7 linked regions of the Homo sapiens genome follow. The protein of the gene in region 4 interacts with the protein of the main gene of each other region in a pairwise test. Each region holds a gene or a part of one and is shown on either strand. Other genes may lie near its edges.

What was found.
Region 1: the proteins of POLR3C (region 4) and ROPN1 interact in binary tests that used the Homo sapiens proteins (3 or more experiments, as listed by UniProt).
Region 2: the proteins of POLR3C (region 4) and KLHL2 interact in binary tests that used the Homo sapiens proteins (3 or more experiments, as listed by UniProt).
Region 3: the proteins of POLR3C (region 4) and KPNA6 interact in binary tests that used the Homo sapiens proteins (3 or more experiments, as listed by UniProt).
Region 5: the proteins of POLR3C (region 4) and POLR3GL interact in binary tests that used the Homo sapiens proteins (3 or more experiments, as listed by UniProt).
Region 6: the proteins of POLR3C (region 4) and VRTN interact in binary tests that used the Homo sapiens proteins (3 or more experiments, as listed by UniProt).
Region 7: the proteins of POLR3C (region 4) and CEP44 interact in binary tests that used the Homo sapiens proteins (3 or more experiments, as listed by UniProt).

What each region holds. Positions count from the first base shown.
Region 1 is NC_000003.12:123,982,125-123,985,624, reverse strand, and holds part of ROPN1 (ropporin-1A), read left to right. Parts: intron 1-3,500. UniProt on the Homo sapiens protein: Important for male fertility. With ROPN1L, involved in fibrous sheath integrity and sperm motility, plays a role in PKA-dependent signaling processes required for spermatozoa capacitation.
Region 2 is NC_000004.12:165,319,061-165,322,560, forward strand, and holds part of KLHL2 (kelch-like protein 2), read left to right. Parts: intron 1-2,251; coding exon of another isoform or gene 2,252-2,265; exon of another isoform or gene 2,266-2,291; intron 2,292-2,971; coding exon 2,972-3,000; 3' UTR 3,001-3,500. UniProt on the Homo sapiens protein: Substrate-specific adapter of a BCR (BTB-CUL3-RBX1) E3 ubiquitin ligase complex that mediates the ubiquitination of target proteins, such as NPTXR, WNK1, WNK3 and WNK4, leading most often to their proteasomal degradation.
Region 3 is NC_000001.11:32,156,556-32,160,055, reverse strand, and holds part of KPNA6 (importin subunit alpha-7), read right to left. Parts: intron 3,204-3,500; coding exon 3,111-3,203; intron 2,711-3,110; coding exon 2,611-2,710; intron 1,790-2,610; coding exon 1,695-1,789; intron 657-1,694; coding exon 525-656; intron 1-524. UniProt on the Homo sapiens protein: Functions in nuclear protein import as an adapter protein for nuclear receptor KPNB1. Binds specifically and directly to substrates containing either a simple or bipartite NLS motif.
Region 4 is NC_000001.11:145,837,700-145,841,199, forward strand, and holds part of POLR3C (DNA-directed RNA polymerase III subunit RPC3), read left to right. Parts: intron 1-356; coding exon 357-507; intron 508-2,190; coding exon 2,191-2,292; intron 2,293-2,416; coding exon 2,417-2,466; intron 2,467-3,222; coding exon 3,223-3,372; intron 3,373-3,500. UniProt on the Homo sapiens protein: DNA-dependent RNA polymerase catalyzes the transcription of DNA into RNA using the four ribonucleoside triphosphates as substrates.
Region 5 is NC_000001.11:145,977,019-145,979,348, forward strand, and holds the end of POLR3GL (DNA-directed RNA polymerase III subunit RPC7-like), read left to right. Parts: intron 1-65; coding exon 66-134; intron 135-464; coding exon 465-521; intron 522-759; coding exon 760-833; intron 834-964; coding exon 965-1,078; intron 1,079-1,342; coding exon 1,343-1,429; 3' UTR 1,430-1,830; downstream 1,831-2,330. UniProt on the Homo sapiens protein: DNA-dependent RNA polymerase catalyzes the transcription of DNA into RNA using the four ribonucleoside triphosphates as substrates. Specific peripheric component of RNA polymerase III which synthesizes small RNAs, such as 5S rRNA and tRNAs.
Region 6 is NC_000014.9:74,351,471-74,354,970, forward strand, and holds part of VRTN (vertnin), read left to right. Parts: intron 1-3,500. UniProt on the Homo sapiens protein: Acts as a transcription factor that regulates development of thoracic vertebrae.
Region 7 is NC_000004.12:174,282,728-174,286,710, forward strand, and holds the start of CEP44 (centrosomal protein of 44 kDa), read left to right. Parts: upstream 1-1,183; 5' UTR 1,184-1,216; exon of another isoform or gene 1,217-1,413; intron 1,414-3,983. UniProt on the Homo sapiens protein: Centriole-enriched microtubule-binding protein involved in centriole biogenesis. In collaboration with CEP295 and POC1B, is required for the centriole-to-centrosome conversion by ensuring the formation of bona fide centriole wall.

The sequences.
Region 1 (3,500 bases), on a different chromosome or scaffold from region 4:
CAAACAAGTCATTACAAAAGTCCATTAAGTATCAGATTTTGGATATTTGTTTAACATCAAAAGCCAAGAATAAATAAGTCACAAACAAATCAAGTCACAATGGGAAAAAAAGTGAACAAAATCTACTGTTTTCTTAGGGACAAATGATGATGATGATGGTGATGGTGATGATGAAGAAAAATCATATAACTTCTTTGTTAGGAGAAAATAATGTGAAAAATAAGAGAAAATTAAATCAAAAGTAGAGCTAAGTATTTGCAACACATATGCATAAAGATTATCATTGTCACTGATAATAAATGCATTGCAATTAAAGTAATAATCCAACGTACAGGGATTGTTTTAACAAGATGGTTGAAAGGAAAAGCCCTATAAAGGCGTCTCTGGCAGCAGGTGTTATACATAAAACCTTCGGCACAGAAACAATAGGTAATGAAATCTGGAAGTTTACTGACTGTGCCAAACAGTATCCAAATATAATTTCAACTGTTGTAAGTTTGTAAGTGGTTGTACATTTTGTATTACTATAAAAAGTTTACAACCATCAATCTTTCATGGCACACCTGTAGCCCATTCTGCCATGGCCTCTAGTGGGGAGCTCAGCTTTAGAGAGCAATGAAAGGCAGAAGAGGATTGAGTGGTAATATGCATACTACAAACAATATTTGATGATATCCAAGTTTTCTAGGAAGGCCTATGGCACAGTATGAAAAACCCTGGGGAAGTATAGGGTTTAAGCAGATGAAAGAAGAAGGGCACTTCAAGTAAGCCGGCTAGAATTAGCAAAATACTGAGGGGAAGAGAGAAAAGAAGGATAGATTACTGTTAACAGTGGGCGAGACAGTGTTAAGCTTTGGATATATAATTTTTTTTTTTGGAAAGTGGCCAGAGCAGACTGTATAGGAAATTTGTGTTGGTAAAGAGTAGCGGAAAATTTTTAGTTTAGAATTATAGGTACAAATCATAGAAAACCTTGAAAGTCAGGATATGATTGTCATTTTGTGAGCAGTGCTCTCTGACTATAAAAAGCAACTTGGAAGATAGATCTGGACACACTGAACAGGACAGGCCAGAGAATGACCTGAGACAGGGAGACTAGTCAGGAGGCTGCACAATAGGTGATAAGGGGCTGAGCCAGAGACACAGGAGTAGAAATAGAAAGGGATTAATTGAAGACACATTTCAAAGGAAATAGTGGGATTTAGTGAGATTCAGCAGACTGAAGAAAATGGATGACTCTCAGACTTTGAGGCCAAAGGACTGAGAGATTAGTGGTATCATGTTCAGAGAAGAACCTGGGAGAGAGATTTAGTTGGGAGATGGACAATGGATTCTAGTGAAGTGTCCTGGAGGCAATGGGAAGTATGAAATAGAAGCACAAGGCGAGAGGTCAAAGATGGGAAAACAAGTGCAATCCACACAGTTTTGTCGTAGATAAAGCCGTGAAGAGGCTGCGAGCTCTCCAAGAAGAGCAACAGAAAGAATGCTGAAGACCTGAGTTGGGGGAAGATTGCTAACTCTTCCTCAGAGCAAGGAAGGAGGAAGAGGAATTATGGAAGGAGGCAAAGGAGCAATGCTGAGGAAAATAGACACACAAGAATGGCGTATGCTATCAAAGGAAGAGAAAGTCTCAAGAAGGAAAGAATTGTCATGTCTAGCAGGCCACCTCCCATGTCAGACTATGTGTATTCAAATCCTGCCTCTGTCACTTATTATATGTCATTGCAAAAGTTCTGTTATCTTTTCTAGTTTCATTATCTGTGAAATAATGCTAATATATTCTACCCCATAGGGATATTTTGAGGATTACTTGAGAAAAATGTATGGTCCTGTACTTAGCACAGTACTGGTCCTGTTATGAGTGCACCTGGCACTTACAATAAATTAATAGATATAATTGATAACTTTTAAGGGAAAAATAGAATGATGAGAAGAGAAAAAAAAACTGCAAGAGGTTAAAGAAGGACCAACCCCTGAGAAAGACAATGGGTATGGAAAACTTACAAGAGATTCCTTGCCCCAAAATGAAAAGAGCTTGCAGACCAATTGTTAGAAACAGCAATGGGATGAAGTAAAGGCTTTACTTAAGTTTGCTCTATACTGACTAAGGGTTAACATTGTTACTGTTGTCATGGAAGCTTCCTTAATTAGGATTGGGGCATCTTTTCGTTTACACGAGATTATCTGAGACTCCAGGAGAGAAATTAAACAATTGCACAACCAAAAGATCCTGTCAAAATACATGGACACAGAAAATGGTGCAGCCGCTGTGGAAAACAGTGTGGCAGTTCCTCAAAAAATTAAAATACAATTACCATATGATCCATCCATTCCACTTCTGGGTATATATACCCAACACAATTTAAAGCAAGGACTTGAACACATATTTGTATACCTATGTTCATAGCAGCATTATTCACAATAGCTAAAATGTGGAAATGATCCGACTGTCCATTGACCTATGAATGGATAAAATTGTGGTACATCTAGCAAAATAGTATTCAGCCTTAAGAACAAGGAAATTCTCAGCTTGGGGCCAGTGGTGCAATGGGTAACACATCTGACTATGGATCCAAAAAAAAGGAAATTCTGACACATGCTACCACATGAATGAACCTGAAGACATTGTGCTAAGCGAAATAAACCACACACAAAGGGACAAATATTATATGCCATATGATTTTATATGATAGTCAAATTCATGAAGATAGAAGAATGGTGGTTGCCAGGAGCTGTGGGGAAGGAGAATAGGGAGTTAGTACTTAATGGGTACAGAGTTTCAGCTAGTGAAGATGAAAAAGTTCTGGAGATGGCTGGTGGTGATTGTGGCACAACAATGTGAATGTACTTAATGACACTGAACTGTACATTTAAAATGGTAAATTGTATGTATTTTTAACACAGTAAAAGAATATATATATGTGCAGACAACATGAGCAAATAAGGCACTGCTCTTTGATAGATAAAATGGGTTGAAAAGTCATCAGAAACAACTTATAAGAGTAACTTTTTAAATGATGAAATATTTCATACTGACAAAATTAAATACATGATGTAAGTAGAAGTATAAAAATAATGAAACAAGCATCTAGACAGCAACCATCCAGCTTAAAACATAGAGCATTACTAATAGTACTGAGACCCTTGTTGTATTTCCCTAATAACATCCCTCTCCATCCTCTCCCTCCTCCACCAGGGGTAACCACCATTCTGAATTTGTATTTATCATTCCTTACTCTTTATTATAATATTATAACATATATATGTCACCAGAAACAATATATTGCTTTTCCACCTAGCATGGTGAGACTCCTCCATGGTGATGTCTGTGGCATACTCATTGAGAATTGTTGTTATTGTCTTAACAATTGAAGCTTTTTATCATTTTATCAAAAACAATTGAAGCTTTCGTCACTCTTTTTTCCTAATAGTGCATTTTGCCTTAAAGTATCTTTTGTCTGGCATGAGTATGTCTACCTTAACTTTTATTGGTTATTCTT
Region 2 (3,500 bases), on a different chromosome or scaffold from region 4:
AGATACAATATTAAATCATAACTGCATGAAATTAACTGTAGTATGTTACTGTACTACTATAATAATTTTATAGCCGTCTCCTGTTGCTGTATTGGTGAGCTCAGCTGTTGTGAGTATCCACTTAAAAAGCTGTGGGGGGCTAATTACCTTTGAAAGAGCAGTTTGTCTCTTCAGCGATGCGTATCTCAGTAAAAAGTTCTCTCTCATGGTTCTGCCTTATTTTTCATCATGTTTACTGCAATATCATAAACCTTGAATAATACCATGGGACCCATACAAAGTGCCACCGGTGATGGTGCTAGGAAGTGCTTCAACGAAGCAGAGAAGAGTCATGACATTACAAGAAAAAGCTGAATTGCTTGAGATATACCATGGATTGAGGTCTGCTGCTGCACTTGCCCACCATTTCAAAATAAATGAATCCAGGGTAGGGATCATTGTAAAAAGGAAAAAGGAAATTCATGAAGCCGTCCCTGCAGCCATCCCAGCAGTTTTGAAAACTTCACACTTTTTGTGAAATCCCTTTTTATCTTGTGTTGAACATGCAGCTTTTATGTGGGTGCAGGATTTTTGTTTTTGAGACAGAATCTCACTCTTGTCGCCCAGGCTGGAGTGCAACAGCGTGATCTCAGATCACTGCAACCTCCGCCTCCCAGATTCAAACGATTCTCATGCCTCAGCTTCCTGAGTAGCTGGGATTACAGGGATGTGCCACCACACCTGGCTAATTTTTAAATTTTTATTATTTTTATTATTTTTGACTTTTTGGTTTTGGTTTTTGGTGGGTGCAGGATTGCTGTAAGAAAGGCATACCTGTCAACTCTAATATGATTTGAGAAAAAGGAAAGTCATTATGTGACAACCTGAAGCAAAAGGAAGGTGAAGGATCTAAAGCTGGAGAATTTCCTCAGCCTACTCAAGCAAAGGATGACTTGATAATTTTGGAAAGGGGTTTGGCTCAAAAAATGTCAAGATAACAGGAGAACACTTCTGTCAACCAAGGGGCCAGCAGATGAGCTCCCAGATGCCATGAAGAAAGTTGTTGAGGAGAATGGATATCTGCCTGAACAAGTTTTTAATGCAGACAAATGTGCCACCAGGGACATTTATTAGGAAGATAAGCAAGCACCAGAATTTAAGGCAGAAAGGGATAAGCTAACTCTACTATTTTGTGCAAATGCAGTTGGGTTTATGATTTGGACTGCTCTTATCTAAAAAGTTGCTAACCCCCAATCCTTGAAGGGAAAATATAAATACCAGCTGCCAGTCTTTTGACTGTATAACAAGAAGGCCTAGACAAGAAATCTTTTCCCGGACTGGTTCCATCTATGCTTCAGGTTCAGGAAGTACCATGCCAGTAAGGGACTGCTTTTTATTTTGATATTGGACAGTGCCCTTGGCCACCCAGAACCCCATGAGTTCAACACCAAAGGCATAGAAGTGGTCTACTTGCCCCTAAACACAATGTATCTAATTCAGCCTCTAGATCAGTGACCATAGGAACCTTAAAGTTTCATTATACATGGCACTCTATGGAAAAAATTGCCAGTGCTATGGAAGAGAATCTCAACAGAGAAAACATGAAAGTCTGGATGGATTACACCATTGAATATATCATTGTTATAGAAAAAGCTATGAAAGTCATCAAACCCAAAACAATAAATTCCTGCTGGAAAAAAACTGTGTTCAGATGTTGTGTATGACTTCACAGGAGTTATGACAGAGCCAGTCAAAGAAATCATGAAAGAGATCATGGATGTGGCTATAAAGGTTGATGGTGAAGGGTTTCAAGGTATGGATCTTGGAGAAATTCAAGAGCTAATAGATACCAAACCAGAGAAATTAACAGAACATGACTCGACGGAGATGAGTGCTTCTTAACCACTGCCAGACAATGAAGAAGATGTAGAAGCAATGTCAGAAAACAAATTGACATTAGACAGTCTGGCAAAAGGGTTTGGTTATTCAAGACTGTTTATGACTTACTTTATGAAATGGGCCCTTCTATGATATGTGCACTGTAACTGAAGAAAGTAGTGGAAAGACGATTGGTATTATGTGGAAACATTTTTAGAGAAATGAAAAAAACAAAAAAGTCAGACAGGAATTAACAGTGTATTTCCTTAAAGTTGCACCAAGTGTGTCTGCCTCTCCTGTTTCCCCTGCCTTCCCTTCCACCTCCTCCACCTCTTCTGCCTCTGCCACCCCTGAAACAACAAGACCAACCTCTCCTCTTTCTCCTCCTCCTCAGCCTGCTCAATGTGAAGAGACAAGGATGAAGACCTTGATGATGATCCACTTCCCCTTAATGAATAGTAAATATAGTTCCTCTTCCTTATGACTTTTTAAATAACATTTCCTTTTCTGTAGCTTACTTTAAGAATACAATATATAACACATAACATGTTATGACATACATAACATATATTACATGTAAAATATGTGTTAATTGACTGTATCAGTAAGGCGTTTGGTCAACTGTAAGCTATTAGTAATTAAATTATGCGGGAGTAAAAAATTATACATGGGTTTTTGACTGCGTGGAGGGTCAGCACCCCTGACCCCCATGTCGGTTCAAGGGTCAACTGTATATTTAAACTATATAATTTTATTACTTTTGACAGAGTATATACCCATGAAACCATCACCACAATCAAGATAATGAACATATCCATCATGCTCAAAAGTTTCTGTGTTCCCTTTTGAGTATATTTTCCAAATTGTAACTACAAAGAGGAAAAGACTAGTTCTGGATTAAATAGTCTTATATTTAACTAGCCCATAACTAAACAGAGTTTTCACTGTCATTTAGATTCAAATGATAATACTACTAAAGTTTAAGAAAGAGATTCTGAAACATGATTTGTACAGTTCCTCCTGCCTTCGTATTATAATGAAGAATTGAGTGTTTTCTCAGAGATACAGAGTGCTGCCTGTGACTTCTTTTTTCTCTCTTCATTTCTTTGCTCAGGGGTCACAGTTATTGATAAACCATTATGAGCCTGAAGGACATTTTCAGCATATTTATACATGAGAAACAGCCTTCAACAAGTATTTGTGAAGTGACTGAGAATCTAGCACTTCTCCACTTGTAGCTGCACTTTAAGTCTCAGCAGAAGATACGATCGTCTGCCTTTATAGGCCTCAGATACTGAAGATTATTTTTGGTAGAAGCACCGTGTAGGCTTTTTCTGCAATGAGCAGCAGCTGACTGAATTTTCATAAGAAACTTGGACTGCAGGACTTAATCTGTAGTCTTTAGACAACAGTTGCTTTCATAAAGACTAGTTCTTATCAACCTTGAATGACTACAGATTATTTTGTGAAGGAGGATGAAGTAATGTGTGTTCTTGTAAAATTAAATTTTATCTTTATTTCTTCTAAAAATCTGTATACCAGGAACTGAAAATCTTTGAACAGATATTAAAATCTACGTAAGTATACAAACTAGTTGAGGGATACACTGTTTGCTTTTATAAAATAACTTTGATTACATGAAT
Region 3 (3,500 bases), about 110 Mb from region 4:
AAGTGCTGGGATTATAGGCGTGAGCCACCGCGCCTGGCGAAAGTTGCACTCTTGTAGCTGCCTTGGACCAAGTCTATAAAAGAGCCCACTACCACTCTCCAATTCTATCCAACTAGTAAGAATTCAATGGGAGAAATGGAAGTTGTATCTTTATCTCCATGATTTGTGGGTACTCAGATATGGGTACTGTGGTGTCTTTTTTCCAATGGCACTTCCAACAACAAATGTATAGAGTTTTTTCCACATCAACCACCCATTCTCTGATACCAACCATGTGTCCAACGATTTAATTCAATTCTGACTCTAACACCTAGAGTTAATGCAGAGTCCGCAGGTTAGTCCCACAAGACTGCCCCAACTTGAGATACCAGTTGCAAGTCCCAGGGGCCATCTGTACTTGACACCCCTATCACTCAGGAAATTCCAAGAGTTTTAACACTGTGCCAAGAACCAGGACAAAGACCAAATATATTTTTTATTATACCACAGGTACTATAAAGAATCACACCAAATCTAAGCATTACCTGTTCCTGAACATCCTCAAAGTCTGAATTAAGCAGCTCTATAAAAATGGGGACAGCCCCTGCTTCAATGACAATTTTGGTCTGCTGAGAGGTTCCAGAGGCAATATTCGTTAGAGCCCAGGCAGCTTCAAACTGAAAGTGAGATTAAGCAATGATTGAAAGGTCATTTCAGACTGAGCAGCCATGCCTATCAGCTGGCTCAGAACAGTAAGCCTCCTGCCCATGAATTTAAAAAACCAAAACAAAACCTCACAAAACACAAGCAAGCCTCTTGCCCACGAATTTAAAACACACACACATAAAATACAAGCCTTTCCCCTCCCGTCTTTAGAGAGTGGGAAGATGCAGTGATGTGATATAGATGAGAATAAGACATTGGGCTTCCAGGGTCCCAGGTTTAGTCCTGCACTACCACAACACCCATGCATCCTTTGCCAGGTCACTCTTTTATTTCCTGAGCTTCACTTTCTTCATTTCTGAAATGAGGATTAGAATGAAATGGGTCTCTCAAAGTCCCTTTCAGCTGAGTTCTGGCAAGTTCCAATGGATTGACCCATCACCCATCTCTGAAACAAGAGACCCAGAGAGGCTAAACAATTTGCCTCAGGTCACACAGGTAGTGGACTATAGCCTCTGATTTATAACTGAATGATCAGTCTATCATAGTCTGGTGCCTTTCCTTTGAAATTGTTTTAAGGAAGAGATTCTGGCTGTGAGGGAACTGATGGTTTCTCCTGAATGTTTCCTAACATTACTTTTGAACTTCCTGAGAGATATGTCAATAGAAGTATCCCACTGCAATTTCTTGGAAGTAGGGCTTTCATCTAATAACCCCTTCCCAGTAGTGGGGGACTGGGGGTGGGATGGGGATAAGTAATGGGTACAAAAAAACCCAGAAAGAATTAATAAGACCTACTATTTGGTAACACAATAGGGTGACTATAGTCAATAATAACTACACAATTTAAAATAACTTAAAGTGTATAATTGGATTGTTTGTAACTTAAAGGATAAATGCTTGAGGAAATGGATACCCCATTCTCCATGATTTGCTTATTTCAAATTGCATGCCTGTGTCAAAACATCTCATGTATCCCATAAATATATATACCTACTATGTATCCCCCAAAAATTAAAAGACAAAACAAACCCCTTCCCTTCAGGCCTCACCTGTAATGTACAATTCTCATTCCTCTTCAGAAACTCCACGAACCGATCCACCACTCTTGGAGTGTTGATAACTTCATCTATTGGAGGACTAGGCTCTGGATAAGGGAGAAGGGAAAATAAAAACACAGGAGAAGCTTTTGCTGATCCCTTCATGGGGGTCAGCTTGCAATCCTTCTTAGACACTTCTGACCACCCTTACAAACATTCCCAAACTCCCTTCTGGTAAGGTGGTTTTAACAATATCTACTCGTCTTTGAACTGTATAATACAGCTGGAATGTTAAAGAGTAAAGCCAATCCTAATTTAAGAATGTTCATCTTTGGCTTACTAAATGTAAGCAAAGAAAGGTGTGGGAGAGAGAACCACCTAAGGGATGAACAACCATGGTCTGCACATTTCCCTTTCAAGAAAGACCAGTACTCTCTTCTTGGGAAGACTATTTGATATACTGAAACAAGAGGTATTTTTCCAATCATACATTAAATTTTTTTATTAAGTACCTATGGTGTGCCACACAGTTCTAGGTACAGAGGACACAGGAGGGAACAAAAACAAAAGTCTCTGCCCTCAGAGAGTTTATATCCTAGTGGGAAGAGTCATTTTATTATGTTAGAAGATAAATATAATGGGGGGAGAGGAGGAGAATATGTAGGGCAAGGTAAAAAGATAAAACTGTTGAAGGTGGGATTTAATCATAGGAGTAAGGGAGTTGCTACAAAGATATCTGGGAATAGAGGACATCAGGCAGAGGAAGTATCCAGTGTGAAGGTAGCAATGTGTCTATCTTGTACAAGCAACACCAAGGTCAGTAGGGCTAGAGCAGAATGAGTGAGGGCACGTGTAAGTTGATGACATCAGTGAAGAGAAAAGAGGCTAAATCATATAAGGCCTCTCTGACAAGGGCCAGGCTTTGTACCTTTGGAGAGCAGTTTCCGGAATTTCTGTGTGGTTGCTAACTGCAGGTCAGAATCATCAGAAAAGAGCATCTCCACCATCTCTCTTGTGATCACACTCTCCTAGAACATAAAACAAGTTTAGGACTTTGCAAACCAACATTAGAGCCAGATGTGAGCACATAATACTGCTTGGCATCCTGTTTTCTAAAAAACTGAGGGCAAGAGGATGGCATAATAGGCTCAGGAGAAGGGGTCTGTTTAATCTATAGGTGCTTCAAGTTGGGACATTTGAAAAGTGATTCCTAATTCTGAGGCAACTGATGGCTTCTCTTAAATGTTTCCTCAGATATATCTAACAAAGTTGAATCTTTGTTGACTCCTAAAGCTGACGAAAGGGTCCACAGAGGAAAGAACTTGTCATGGTTACTGGCAAAGCTGGTAGATGATGTGAACGGCCCAATTTCTGTCCTTAGAAGCAGGTGTTTTCCAGGTCAGCCTGAGGCACATGCAGGGGCCTTACCCCAGTGGTAGAGCTCACATAAGAGTCCATGAGAAGACTATCGAACATGGCAGCTTCTTCATTAATCAGCTCCACATTTCTCCGTTTAAAAAGCTGAAAGTAAAGAGACAGTGGTTAAGAGTACTCTCTGAACCAAAGAAAACAAAGAACAATCCAATGTTAAATTATGGCATAACTGACAAGGATATACTAGAGTAGCTGAGAAGTGAGGCCAAGCTTTATACATTAGTCTCCCCTTATTCAGTTTTGCTTTCTATTATTTTAGTTATCCAGTCAACCGTGGTCTGAAAATATTACACAGAAAATTCCAGAAATGAACAATTCATAAGTTTTAAATTGCATGCCATTCTGAGTAGTGTTGAAGTTTCACGCTATCTTGTTCTGTCTGGC
Region 4 (3,500 bases):
TTTCCCCATTTTTTCACTGGACTCCTATGGATCTCATGTAATACTGCTCTTTACCTTAAAATAACCTACTGTTTAATTCCTACCGATGCAAATTAACCAGCCTCCCTAAAGCCTTTGCTTACAAATGTAGGAACTGTGGCACTCAAATGAGTCAGCAGTTGGTGACTGCCTTATGATTAACAGCAGTTGGTGATGCCTTACCATCACCAACCTATGGAGCTGTAGAATAATTTTCTGATCACTGTTCCTGTCTGGTACTGGCTTCACACATGGAATAGAACAACCACCCCATCTATGACTGGGAACTAAAGCTGATCTATGTTAGCATGCCATTTGCTTTCTTCATTCCTTTCCAGATTTGGGTCTCGCTGTGCTAGAATATTCCGTCTAGTTTTGCAGAAGAAACACATAGAGCAGAAGCAAGTGGAAGACTTTGCAATGATTCCTGCAAAGGAGGCAAAGGATATGCTATATAAGATGCTCTCAGAAAATTTCATGTCACTCCAGGTAACCAACCAAGGGCGTAATAATTGCCAACCAGCAAAGCTGGCCTAGGGTGAGAGAAGCTTCTTAGGCAAACATACTGAACCCCCAAGCAAACTCTATATCCAGCTCTGAGACAGAAAAACATGATTCACAGAGACATAGCGAGCACTTGGAGGATAATTTGGGGCCTTAACTGCCCTAGTGAGAAAGAGGTGGCCGGGCACGGTGGTTCGCGCCTGTAGTCCCAGCACTTTGGGAGGCCAAGGTGGGCAAATCACTTGAGGTCAGGAGTTCGAGACCAGCCTGGCCAACATGGTGAAACTCCGTCTCTAATAAAATACAAAACAATTAGCTGGGCCTGGTGGCACACGCCTATAGTCCCAGCTGCTCGGGAGGCTGAGGCAGGAAGGAGACTCTCTTGAACCCAGGAGGGGGAGGTTGCAGTGAGCCGAGATCAAGCCACTGCACTCTAGCCTGAGCAACAGAGTGAGACTCTGTCTCAAAAAACAAAAAAAACAAAAAACAAAAAAGAGGCAGAGCCAGGACATCACCCCAAACCCACCCTGCCTTTTTTTCTCTTCTCATTTCTGTCCTTCCTTAAGCCTTAATTCTGTTATAGTTTAAATTTATCAACACATCTAACTGAGTCTTTGCAGGGCTATTTAGTAGAGCATATGAGTAAATAGATAGAATGGATTTTTGGAGTCAGATTACAGCTCTGCCTTACCCAGTTACATTAAGCAAGTTACCACGTTTCCCATCTATAAAACAGTGATGGATGGTGATAATAAAAATAATATGGTTGCCAGGTGCGGTGGCTCATGCCTGTAATCCCAGCACTTTGGGAGGCCTAGGCGGACGGATCACTTGAGGTCAGGAATTCGAGAATAGCCTGGCCAACCTGGTGAAACCCTGTCTCTACTAAAAATACAAAAATTAGCTGGGCGTGGTGCCGTGTGTCTGTAATCCCAGCTACTCAGGAGGCTGAGGAAGGAGAATTGCTTGAACCTGGGAGGCAGAGGTTGCAGTGAGCCAACATTGTGCCACTGCACTCCAGCCTGGGCAACAGAGCAAGACTCTGTCTCAAAAATAATAATAATACGACTTTTTGTAAAGATCAAATAGAATTTACCTGGCACATAGAGTTGTTCAGTAAATGTTAGTTGCCCTCCCTTTCTTCCCCAGCTCAGGATGCTGACAGTCAAATGGAAAAAACAGGGAAGCCCAGCTCTCCATTTGACTGATTATGACATAAACCACAAAGACTGGGCCGGGCACACCTGTATTCTCAGCACTTTGGGAAACCAAGGCGGGATGATCACTTGAGCCCAGGAATTCAAGACCAGCCTGGAAAATATAGTGAGACCATGTCTCCACCACCCCCAAAAGATTAAAAAATTAGCGGAGCATGGTGGTGCATGCCTGTAGTTCCGGCTACTTGGGGGACTGAGGTGGGAGGATTGCTTGAGCCGGAGGTGGAAGTTGCAGTGAGCTGATATCATGCCACCGCACTCCATCCTAGGTAACAGAGCAAGACCCAGTCTCAAAATAAATAAATAAAATAAACACAGGTACTGAATGACTAGGAAACAGGAAAGTGTAAGTAAAAAGGAGGGCTAAGTAACTCCAGGTAGAATGAGTGTGTGCTTTGCCAGTTCTAAAACAGTATAATTTCTGCTATTTTTCTTTCTATTGGACAAATAGGAAATTCCCAAAACACCAGACCATGCCCCATCCAGGACCTTCTATTTATATACTGTGAACATCCTGTCAGCTGCCCGAATGTTGTTGCACAGGTGCTACAAGGTAACTCAATCTGGACCTTCTCCCCATTTCCTCCATACGGTCAAGTACCCCTCATGTGCCCACTTCGCCCTGAGCTGCTGAAATAGAACTATGTGCATTCCTTGTCTGTCTTCTCTTTCCTCAGAGCATAGCCAACTTGATAGAAAGGAGGCAATTTGAAACCAAAGAGAATAAGTAAGTAACATTTTCAGTTGAGTTATTTACATCTTTCAAGATCAAGGGCCTCAGGGGAAATTTCCTCTAGAAATAGGAATCAATAGACGCTGGGCCTGGCAGGGTGGCTCATGCCTGTAATCCCAGCACTTCGGGAGGCTGAGGCAGGTGGATCACTTGAGGTCAGGAGTTTGAGACCAACCTGGCCAACATGGTGAAACCCTGTCTTCACTAAAAATACAAAAATTAGCTGGGCATGGTGGCGGGCACCTATAGTCCCAGCTACTCGGGAGGCTAAGGCAGGAGAATCACTTAAACCCAGTGAGTGGAGGTTGCAGTGAACCAAGATCACGCCACTGCACTCCAGCCTGGGCGACAAAGTGAGACTCCATCTCAAAAAAAAAAATTTTTTTTTTGAGAAGTAGGAACCAGTAGAGATAGCAACCAGTCTACTTGCATTGAATCATTGGCTTAGATTAGTGTAAATCATGCATTAGTCTACACTTTTCTAACATGCTCCCAGTGAAATAATTTTTCAGATTAAATTTGTGAGAAACGTACAAAAGCACCAAACTTTTAAGTGCAAATGAGAGGCAATAAGAATTTCAGGAGTGAAGTTATATTTCCAAATAAGTTTGTAGAAAATGTCCTTAGAAGGTGACATTATCTACTTTGATCAGGAAAATGGTAAAGGGTGGTGGGTAGTGCCTCAGACACACGTGGTAAGAGAATCTCCCAGGTTAGGGAAGATGTCTCAGAGTTGTGTTTGTTTGACAGGCGTCTACTAGAAAAATCTCAGAGGGTAGAAGCCATCATTGCATCTATGCAGGCTACTGGTGCAGAGGAAGCACAGTTACAAGAAATAGAGGAGATGATCACAGCTCCTGAACGTCAGCAGCTAGAGACCCTGAAACGTAATGTCAACAAGTAAGCATCATAAACTTCAGACCTGCATTTCAGAATACCATCCAGAAAATCCATTTTGACCTCCTGTAACCCTCCAGCTTAGCATGAGCAAACCTAAACTCACTGTCTCCTCCAGCTCACTTAACAGA
Region 5 (2,330 bases), 140 kb from region 4:
ACTCTCAGGAACAGTCCTGTTCTGGGTCTCTGAAGGGATAAAACTTTGACCCTTCCACCCCTCAGATGTGGAGCGTTATTCAGACAAATATCAGATGTCAGGTCCGATTGACAATGCCATCGATTGGAACCCTGGTAGGTGATGGGCCCTTTCATTGACTGCCCTTCTTTCAAATGCATGGGATGCTTCAAGCTATTCCCACCACGCCCATGACCCCACCCCATTCCCCGATCCAGCATCTGCAAGCTAGAGCCTTAGTTATGGTCCAACACATTCTCAGATTCTACCTGAAAAAGCTATTAAATAGTTCCCACTACTCAGGAGATATCCAAGCCACTGAACAACTTTGGCCCAGCCCCTTCCTTCCTCTCCTTTAAAACCCTCACCCCCCTTTAAAACCAGTCAGTATTCACTGGAGACCCCAGGCAGGGTCCTATTGACATTTACGTTCCCACTATTCCCAGATTGGCGGCGTCTACCCCGGGAGCTAAAGATCCGAGTGCGGAAGCTACAGAAGGAACGTGAGTGTATCTGGAAAAAAGGAGGGAGAAGAGAGGTTTCCTTCATCAGCCTGAGGGCCGAGGCTGCTGCTGGTCTCACCTTCCATCCCAGTTCCTATACCCAATCTACCAAGTGTTGTTGCTAGATGTCATAGTGGCCACATGAGGGCAGCAGAGTGACATGTTCTTTGCATGAGGATGGGCTATAAAGCTGGCAAAATTTGCTCTCTGAAGGTTTACCTTTTGATCCCTCCACCAGGGATTACAATTCTGCTCCCCAAGAGGCCCCCTAAGACCACAGAAGATAAGGAGGAAACAATACAGAAACTAGAGGTGAGGAGGAAGTGTGCATAGAGACCTCCTGAGCCCTGGATCCATTCCCTCTCTCTTGGCCCATGTGTGCCTCAATTTTTCCCTTCTGTGAACTGAACCTGAGTTTCTATTCCTATTCATCCCCACATGAGACCCTGGAGAAGAAGGAAGAAGAAGTAACTTCAGAGGAGGATGAGGAGAAAGAAGAAGAAGAAGAGAAGGAAGAGGAGGAAGAAGAAGAGTATGATGAAGAAGAACATGAAGAGGTGAAGGGGACTCCTTCCACCTTAGTCCCCCTCCCTTTACCCTCTTTATACTAGGGTTGCTCTCCTCAGAGGGTTGGCATGCCAACAGAGATAGTGCCCCCCAGGGTAGGGGCTTCTCTCTACTTCATCTGCCCCCCTTCTACAAACTACAGCTGGAAGAGATGTCTCAGGCCTGGAATGGTGTGACTGAGAGGAAAGGGGTCTGGTACACAGGAAGGAAGGTGAATGCCAAATTGACTTTTACTTTTTTTTTTTCCATTTCAGGAAACTGATTACATCATGTCATATTTTGACAATGGAGAGGACTTTGGTGGTGACAGTGATGACAATATGGACGAGGCTATATACTGAAGAAGGACTCTGGACCCTCGTGTCTTTCTTTAGGATACAGAGAGTAACTGTACCTATTATTTGTTTCTTCAGACAAGCAAATCATTTGGTCAGAGTTCATATAATCTGTCTGTTCCCTGGAGATGGGAATAGAGGATGATGACAGTTTATTTTCTACACTTCCCCTCCTTCCACATTTGTATCACCTTTGCTATCTTGGGGAAAGTGCAAAGGACAAACATCTCAATTGTATGAAGGGAGAAAGGAGAATTGAAAGAAGAACTGGGGTTGTTAGAGCTGAGATGACTGTACACATACCCCTGCCCAATTTATATAGCTCTTTGTGGAGATAATTAGGGGTGGGAGCAGTTTGAAGGAGTAAGCCTGGTTTTATACTTTTAAATAAAGTGTTTTTATCTGTCTCTCTGTTGTGGGTGAGGCCTGGTGACAGAGGGCTGGAGGAATGAAGGAAATGCTTAACTAAGCCGGGTCTGGTGTGACACACTGGAGGGTTACAGCCCTACAGCCCGCTTGTCCTTTGTCCCTTCCCTTCTACCCCCATGGTGGGACACATATTCACAATCGAGCCCAGCCAAGGAATATTCAAGGCCTCATCTGTAGGGCAATGCAAAGTAAATTGTAGAGAACAGCCTACGCCCCCTGCAGTACAGCTGACTTCTGAGCCTCTGGTCCTCAGGCCACAAGGACATGATTGTGTCTGTTCACACATGTTCACAAGGACATAGGTCCTGTCTTTCCCACACTTGACCTTGATCTTGTCCTTATTTACAAAAAATGATTACAGCTATTTTTGTGGGGAAAGGCAAGAAAACCAGGTATGAGGAGGGAGGAGGAGCTGACTTATTCACCATACTCCCTCCTCTTCCAGACTCTGGAGATGCCACTTTGAAAGGTATGTCTG
Region 6 (3,500 bases), on a different chromosome or scaffold from region 4:
TCCAAAGGTGATTCTGATTACCAGGTTTTTTTTTTTTTTTTTTTTTTTTTAAGACAGTCTCACTCTGACACCCGGGCTGGAGTGCAGTGGCATAATCTCAGTCCCCTGAGGCTCAGGTTATCCACCTCAGCCTCCTGAGTAGCTGGGACTACAGGCACATGCTACTATGCAGGCTAATTTTTTTTTTTCCGTAGAGATGGGGTTATGTTATGTTGTCCAGGCTGGTCTCTAACTCCTAGGGCTCAAGCTATCTGCCCACTTCAGCCTCCCAAAGTTCTGGGATTACAGGCATGAGCCACTGCACTTGGGCTGATTACCAATTTTTAAACGACTTTCCTTCTTTGGTTATCAAGTAAAATTCTGGTGGCTGTTCCCTCAGTACTTTTTTTTTTGAGACGGAGTCTCGCTCTGTTTCCAGGCTAGAGTACAGTGGTGCGATCTTGGCTCACTGCAACCTCCGTCTCTTGGGTTCAAGTGATTCTCCTGCCTCAGCCTCCCGAGTAGCTGGGACTACAGGCGCGGGCCACCATGCCCAGCTAATTATTTTTTTTTTGTATTTTTAGTAGACACAGGGTTTCACCATGTTGTCCAGGATGGTCTTGATCTCTTGACCTTGTGATCCGCCTGCCTCGTCCTCCCAAAGTGCTGGGATTACAGGCCTGAGCCACCACCATGCCCGGCCTCAGTACTTTTAATTTTTTTTATTTATGTTTTATTTTTTATTTTTGAGATGGAGTCTCACTCTGTCACCCAGGCTGGAGTGCGGTGGGCGATCTCGGCTCACTGCAACCTCTGCTGCCCAGGTTCAACCAATTCTTCTGCCTCGGCCTCCCGAGTAGCTGGGATAACAGGCACCTGCCACTGCACCTGGCTAATTTTTGCATTTTTAGTAGAGATGGGGTTTCACCATCTTGGCCAGGCTGGTCATGAACTCCTGATCTCGTGATCCACCTGCCTCAGCCTCCCAAAGTGCTGGGATTACAGGTGTGAGCCACTGCGCCCCAGCCCTACTTTTAATTTTTTAAAACATTTTTACTAAATTACAATTTGCATTCATCCACTCCTTTCAAATGTAGCTTTTTTGTTTTGTTTTGCTTTTTGGGGACAGTCTCCTCTGTTGCTCAGGCTGAAGTCCGGTGGCGTGATCATAGCTCACTGTAACCTCGAACTATGCTCAAGTAATCTTCCTGCCTCAGCCTCCCAAAGTGCTGGGATTATAGGCGTGTGCCACCACGCCTGGCCTTAAGCGTACAGTTTGATCTGAAAAATGTATATACCCAAACACCATTTTTAAACCTAAGGGTCATCTAAAGCAATTTATTGAACTCTGAGAACAAGTTTAATTTGAGAACATGATCTGAGAAACCAGAAAGGATAATGGTCCCTCCCCTAATGTAAAAAGTGTCTATGAAGGAATACCACTCTGCTTTGCAACTGAACAATAAAAACATACCAATAATTGAGATGATTAGTTTTGTGTTAAAAGGTGGTTAATGGTTTGAACAGGAGATGAATCACAGACCCTAAAGAGCATCTGGGGCCAGGCATGGTGGCTCACGCCTGTAATCCCAGCACTTTGGGAGGCCAAGGTGGGTGGATCACCTGAGGTCAGGAGTTTGAGACCATGAGACCACCCTGTCGGACATGGTGAAACCCCATCTCTACAACATAAGCTGGGCGTGGTGGCATGTGCCTACAGTCCTAGTTACTCTGGAGGTTGAGGCAGGAGAATCGCTTGAACCCTGGGGGCGGAGGTTGTAGTGAGCAAAGAATGAGCCACTGTACCCCAGCCTGGGTGATAGAGTGAGATTCTGTCTCAAAAAAAAAGAAAAAAAGTGTTTGGTTTCAACTAACTTGTATTGTGACCTTGGGCAAATTAGGTTAACTTCAGTTGCCTCAGTTTCCTCACCTGTAAATTGGGGATAATGGTAGTACTTAAAGTATTAGTGTCAGGATTAGGACAGTGCATGGCAAATAGTAAATGCTCAGTAAATCATAGTTATTAGATCTTTGTGCAGTGAATAGATTGTTGCTACCCCTTTGAAAGGCTGTTTCTGGGGCAGCACTTCTCAAACTTTTTGGTTTCAGGACTCCTGTACGGTCTGCAGACCCTGAAAACCTTTTGTTTATATAGGTTATATCTACCAGTGTATATTGTACACAAAATTAAAAATAAGAAATAAATTTTAAAAAGCCTGTTATACAGTAACAAATAATCATTTTTATGAGAAGTGACATTTCCAGAGCAAAAAAACTACTTTTTTTTTTTTGAGATGGAGTCTCACTCTGTCGTCCAGGCTGGACTGCAGTGGCGTGATCTTGGCTCACTGTAAGCTCCGCCTCCCGGGTTCACGCCATTCTCCTGCCTCAGCCTCCCGAGTAGCTGGGACTAGAGGCGCCCGCCAGCGTGCCCGGCTAATTTTTTGTATTTTTAGTGGAGACGGGCTTTCACCATGCTAGCCAGGATGGATTTTTGTATTTTTAGTAGAGACAGAGTTTCACCATGTTAGCCAGGCTGGTCTTGAACTCCCGACCTCAAGTGATCTGCCTGCCTCGGCCTATCTTCTTTTAAACCAGATACTATGGAGACTTGGAAAAATGTTAAATAATGTCCGAGAGCACATTATTCTACATTTTTACATTTTACATTTTTCTGTATCTCCATAGTATTTGGTTTAAAAGAAGATGAGTACTTTCTCATATCTTTCTATATTCAATCTGTTTTGATATATTGTTTTGGTGGAAGCATCTGAAGAAAATCTAACTTCATCAGATATATAGATGGAAAAAGGAGGAGTATTTTGATCACTTTTTCAGTGGATTTTTTTGATATTATACCAAAACTTTACAAGTAGTAGCTTCTCAAAGCTTAGTTATAATGTGGAATTTGAAACCATATCCATGAACTTTTTGTACCCTGTTATATTAAAATCCATGGGTCTTTTTTTTTTTTGAGATGGAGTCTCGCTCTGTCCCCAGGGTGGAGTGCAGTGATGCAATCTTGGCTCACTGCAGCCTCTGCCTCCCGGGTTCAAGCAATTCTCCTGCCTCAGCCTCCTGAGTAGCTGGGACCACAGGCATGTGCTGCCACTCCTGGCTAATTTTTGTATTTTTAGTAGAGACGGGGTTTCACCACATTGGCCAGGATGGTCTCGATCTCCTGAGCTCGTGGTCCGCCCGTGTCGGCCTCCCAAAGTGCTGGGATTACAGGTGTGAGCCACCACACCCAGCCCCATGGGTTTCTTTTATACTTTGAATGATTCTTCTACAAGTGCATGACTTTGTAACAGCACCCATTGGCTATTTGGAAAATGTTCACTGAGTGATGTAGATCTTTAGTGGAAACAATTGACAATTCATTATACAGCATAAAAAATTATATTTGTTAGGGCTGGGCGTGACGGCTCACACCTGTAATCCCAGCACTTTGGGAACCTGAGGCGGGCAGATCATTTGAGGTCAGGAGTTTGAGACCAGCCTGGCCAACATGGTGAAACCCC
Region 7 (3,983 bases), on a different chromosome or scaffold from region 4:
AAAATGAATATTTTACTTGTAAAACAAGTAGAATCAATTATTTTATTAGTAAATTCATACAGAACCTAAAAATAAAACTAAAAAAATTAAATGACTGAGGATTGGGATCCATTTATGTGATTTTGCCAAATAAATATTGAGAACCTTCTACGTAAGAGATTAGAACCCAGTCGCTGAGAAACAAATAAAAGACAAGTTTGACAAGTTTTATAACCCAAGTTTGACTACTGTAGCAGCTAGCAATCCATCGTGATCTTAACTATACTTGTGTTTGCATTCATATTACTGGAAAGTGGTAAAGAACCAAAAACTGTCTAGGAACCAAAATAACACTCGACCCGAAAACCAACACTTGGACCTGAAGAAAGTAACCCTTGTCATTTCTCAGGTTTATTTCACAATGACGCTGGGTTACTACTTGGAGTCCTAAACCGAACTACACCCCAATGGCCTAGAAACAGAAGGAACACACCCAGTTCCGCCTCCTGACAGTGATTCCTCACTTTAATGAGCCACCACTACTGTCACTCAAGATGCTTCGCACTGTCATTGGTCGCAAACTCTTGCTGGTCGGCCAGTTTCGGCCAACTGGCAAGCACTGGTTGTCTTTATTTTCGAGAAAAGTGAAGGTGAACAGGGAAAAGAGACAAGAGATCTAAAATATCTAGGTTGACTCCTGTACCTGAGCGACCTGCGATCTCCACCGCCGCCGCGACGAATTGGCCTCTGGGCGGGGACTTTTAGCCAAAAGGAAAATGGCTCAGCCGGGAACTGGTGCCCAGGCCATGGAGAAGCTGATTCAAACTTTACTTGTCCACACCGGTAGAGGTGACCGCGATGAGAATACCAGAAACAGCACTACGACCCTCAGAACTCAGGGTACCTCCAGCTGCAGGGGCCAGAACTGCCGACTATCCCAATTTTGACGTTTCCTATTGTTGCCGGAAGTGACGTTAGGCTCCGACTCTTAACGGAGACGCATTTTTATTTCTGTTGTTTACGATTCGCTATAGATTCCTTGTTTCTCACTTCGTAGCACGAGCCACTCTGACCATCAAGATCAGAAAAACTTCTCAGCTGCAAGTTAGAAGTGGACTGGCCATTGAGGAGGCTCTCAGCGGAGTCGCTCTTCACAGGAGTCTTGAACGCGGTGTGGAATCGGCAGCGAGGAATCCTGGAGCACAGAGAAGCTCCCAGCTTTGAAGGTCTTGCGGTGGTGCGTGGCGGGCAGGAACCCACAATTCCAAATACAAACGGTCGGCGCGAGAAGCGCTTCTGGGCGCAGGCGCCTGGCTGTAGCGACTGGTTGCGGGAGGCTGGACTCTGGTGACTGTGTATGGTTGCATATGCTCCGTTTTCCTCTCCCTGTCGTGCTGGGCCTTTGAAACCGGCTTCTTTGCTGGTGGCTGCTTGGTGAGCCCCGAGGAGACGGCAAGGCTGCGCCTGGTATTGGGCGGAGGTCGCCTCTCTCCGCCGTCCTTACAGAGACCCCGGGCGGAGACGAATGACCAGATCCGCCTTTTCATTCTTTTAAATCAAATGGCGGGAGGGGAGCCTTGCTTATATACCCAACTAGTATATGCTTTTAGTCACAACGAAGTGGGAAGTATCGTGGTAGCTCATCCTATCAGAATTAGGTTGTGACTTAGGGTTGGAAAGTTATAGGCTTACTGATTCCTATTGGATCCTCTGGGGTGAGGATACAAACGGCTCCTGACTATAAGGAAGACAGGACAGCAGTTCGTGTTTTCCTTGTTGGCATTTCCCCAGCTTTTCAAATATTTCTCCACCTTTATTGAAGGCTACAGATTTTTCCCTCACTGTAACAAGTTAATCTTGAAGTTGTTATTCTCTTTTACTCTGGAATTATGGCCATGCTAGACTGTTTTTTTCCCGAATTATCTGCAGACCTTTTAATTTTATGTGTGAACACAGCAGTCCCGTTGAACTCTTTACTTGTCCCTTACTCCTCCCCACTCCCGCCCAGCTTTCTCGATGCTTTGCCTTTCTCAGACCTTTCTCCTATCTCTTAGAGAAGTATTTCCCTAATATCTTTTGCAGTTTCATAAACTGTTTTTCTCATCTTTACTTTTTTGTTTTTGATACGTGTTTTTAGATAATATCGAGCATTATGTGCTATGTCACAAACTCTTAGCCATTGACTGTTATTAGAGTCAGTGTAGTTGCTTCATTCTAAACAAAAATCACTCTGGTCCAGTGACATTCTATTGGGAGGCATTGTTTTAATGACCTCTAACAGCAATGAGATTGAGCGATGTTGAAAATCCTAAACTGCTAGAGTACACTATTTTCACAACCTCTCCCACAAGTTCAATTGCGCAGATCTGACTTGTAGACAAGGAAGGAAGCTAGAAAGGAATATTGAGAGCTTCTTTATTATTGAATCTATGCTGCAAGCTGAGTGGTATCTCCTTTTTTCCTTAGTTTGCCTTTGATCAGTGCTATAAGTTGAAAATGTTAAATTTTTAAAAGTATTTTTCATTAATGAAAGTAAGGTGTTAAAATGTACATAAGTAATAGATTGGCTTCTTTTAATGTCTTGTTTTTAAGGCTTTTGAATTTTATAGTAGACTTAGTAAAGCCCTTTGTGAGAATGTAGAGCAGTAGCTGTAATTTTATTCTGTGATAATCCCAATTTTAAATCCCTTTATTTTTCTGTCTCCTATCACTTACCTCGTTCACGAGCTCTGCTTGTATTACTCTTCAAAATATTTATTCACTGGTACTGAAGAGAGACATAACTTTGTTGTCAGAAATTCCATTATCAGAGGTAGAAATCATGTAAGAGACACTGAAATGTTTTCCAAAATGTCAGAAAAAGGAAAGGTGAGAAGATATCATAAAGTGTTACGTAAAACAGAATTACTTGCACTGGGAAAATGGAATATACATCTGGAAGGACTAAAGGAAGTCTGGAAAGACATAGAATTTACATTAAAGTTACTGGGAAGAAGGTATCCCTAGAAGAATTGTGTTACGATAGATGGGTCTGGAACCCGAAAGAAGCTCAGACCTACTATATTGGCCAGTGGCAAAATCCAAGAATACATTTTTTGCGGTTAAAGCCAGAGTAGTCCTCACTTCATGTTTTTCAGGAAAGTAAAGGCTTATCTTGGGAAATCCCTTTTAGGCTTCCGTGTGTCCATCTACCCCCAGTCAGTCTAAAGGATATTAAATAGGGTTTACCTTCTTGGCCAGTGTTTTGTATAATGTGATTTCAGGATGACTTTCTCTTTTTCTAGTTATCTCCCATTTGACAGTACCTAAAATTATCTCTGTCTAGAAATGTAAATGTTTAGTTGAAGTAATTTATTGGCTGAAAAATAGTGACTAAAATGTGCATGCACAAGTCTATAAAGTATATTCAATAAGCTGTTGCCTACCATGTTGATAAAGGAGACTAGGAACAGAAAGGTAGGTTCATAAAGAGGGAGCAGTTGCTCTACCCTGGGGAAATGGCTGTGGAAATGAGTGGCGAGGGGCTTAAAGTAGGAAGCTTACTAAATTTAGGATTTTGTAAATCGGTGACCTTCTTACCTTTCCTTATTTAAAGATAGAGAAACGGTGTGTAAAGGGATGATTTGTATCCTGGACAGCTGGGTAATGCGAATTGGAGGAAAAGATCACACTAACCCAGCTTCACCTGATTTATGAATTGTTCTGTTTTCATTTTAATATAATGACTTCATTTTAATGTGATAACTTCATTTTAAAGGAGCTTCATTCTCAAAGGGTTCATTACTCAAGGTATTGTTATGTATTACTTTTCTTCTATGAAGTGTCCATGGACAGTTGTGGTAGATGTTTTTATGTAAGTTATTGAGTTTCACGTTACTGGCTGACTAGACTTTTATAGTTCAGAAACTTACCTCCTTCCAGCAAAGGTTCTTAATCGTTTATATACCTATTTATGACTCTTCTTTGGGAAAAATCTCCTTTGATAATCTAATGAAAGTCCCACT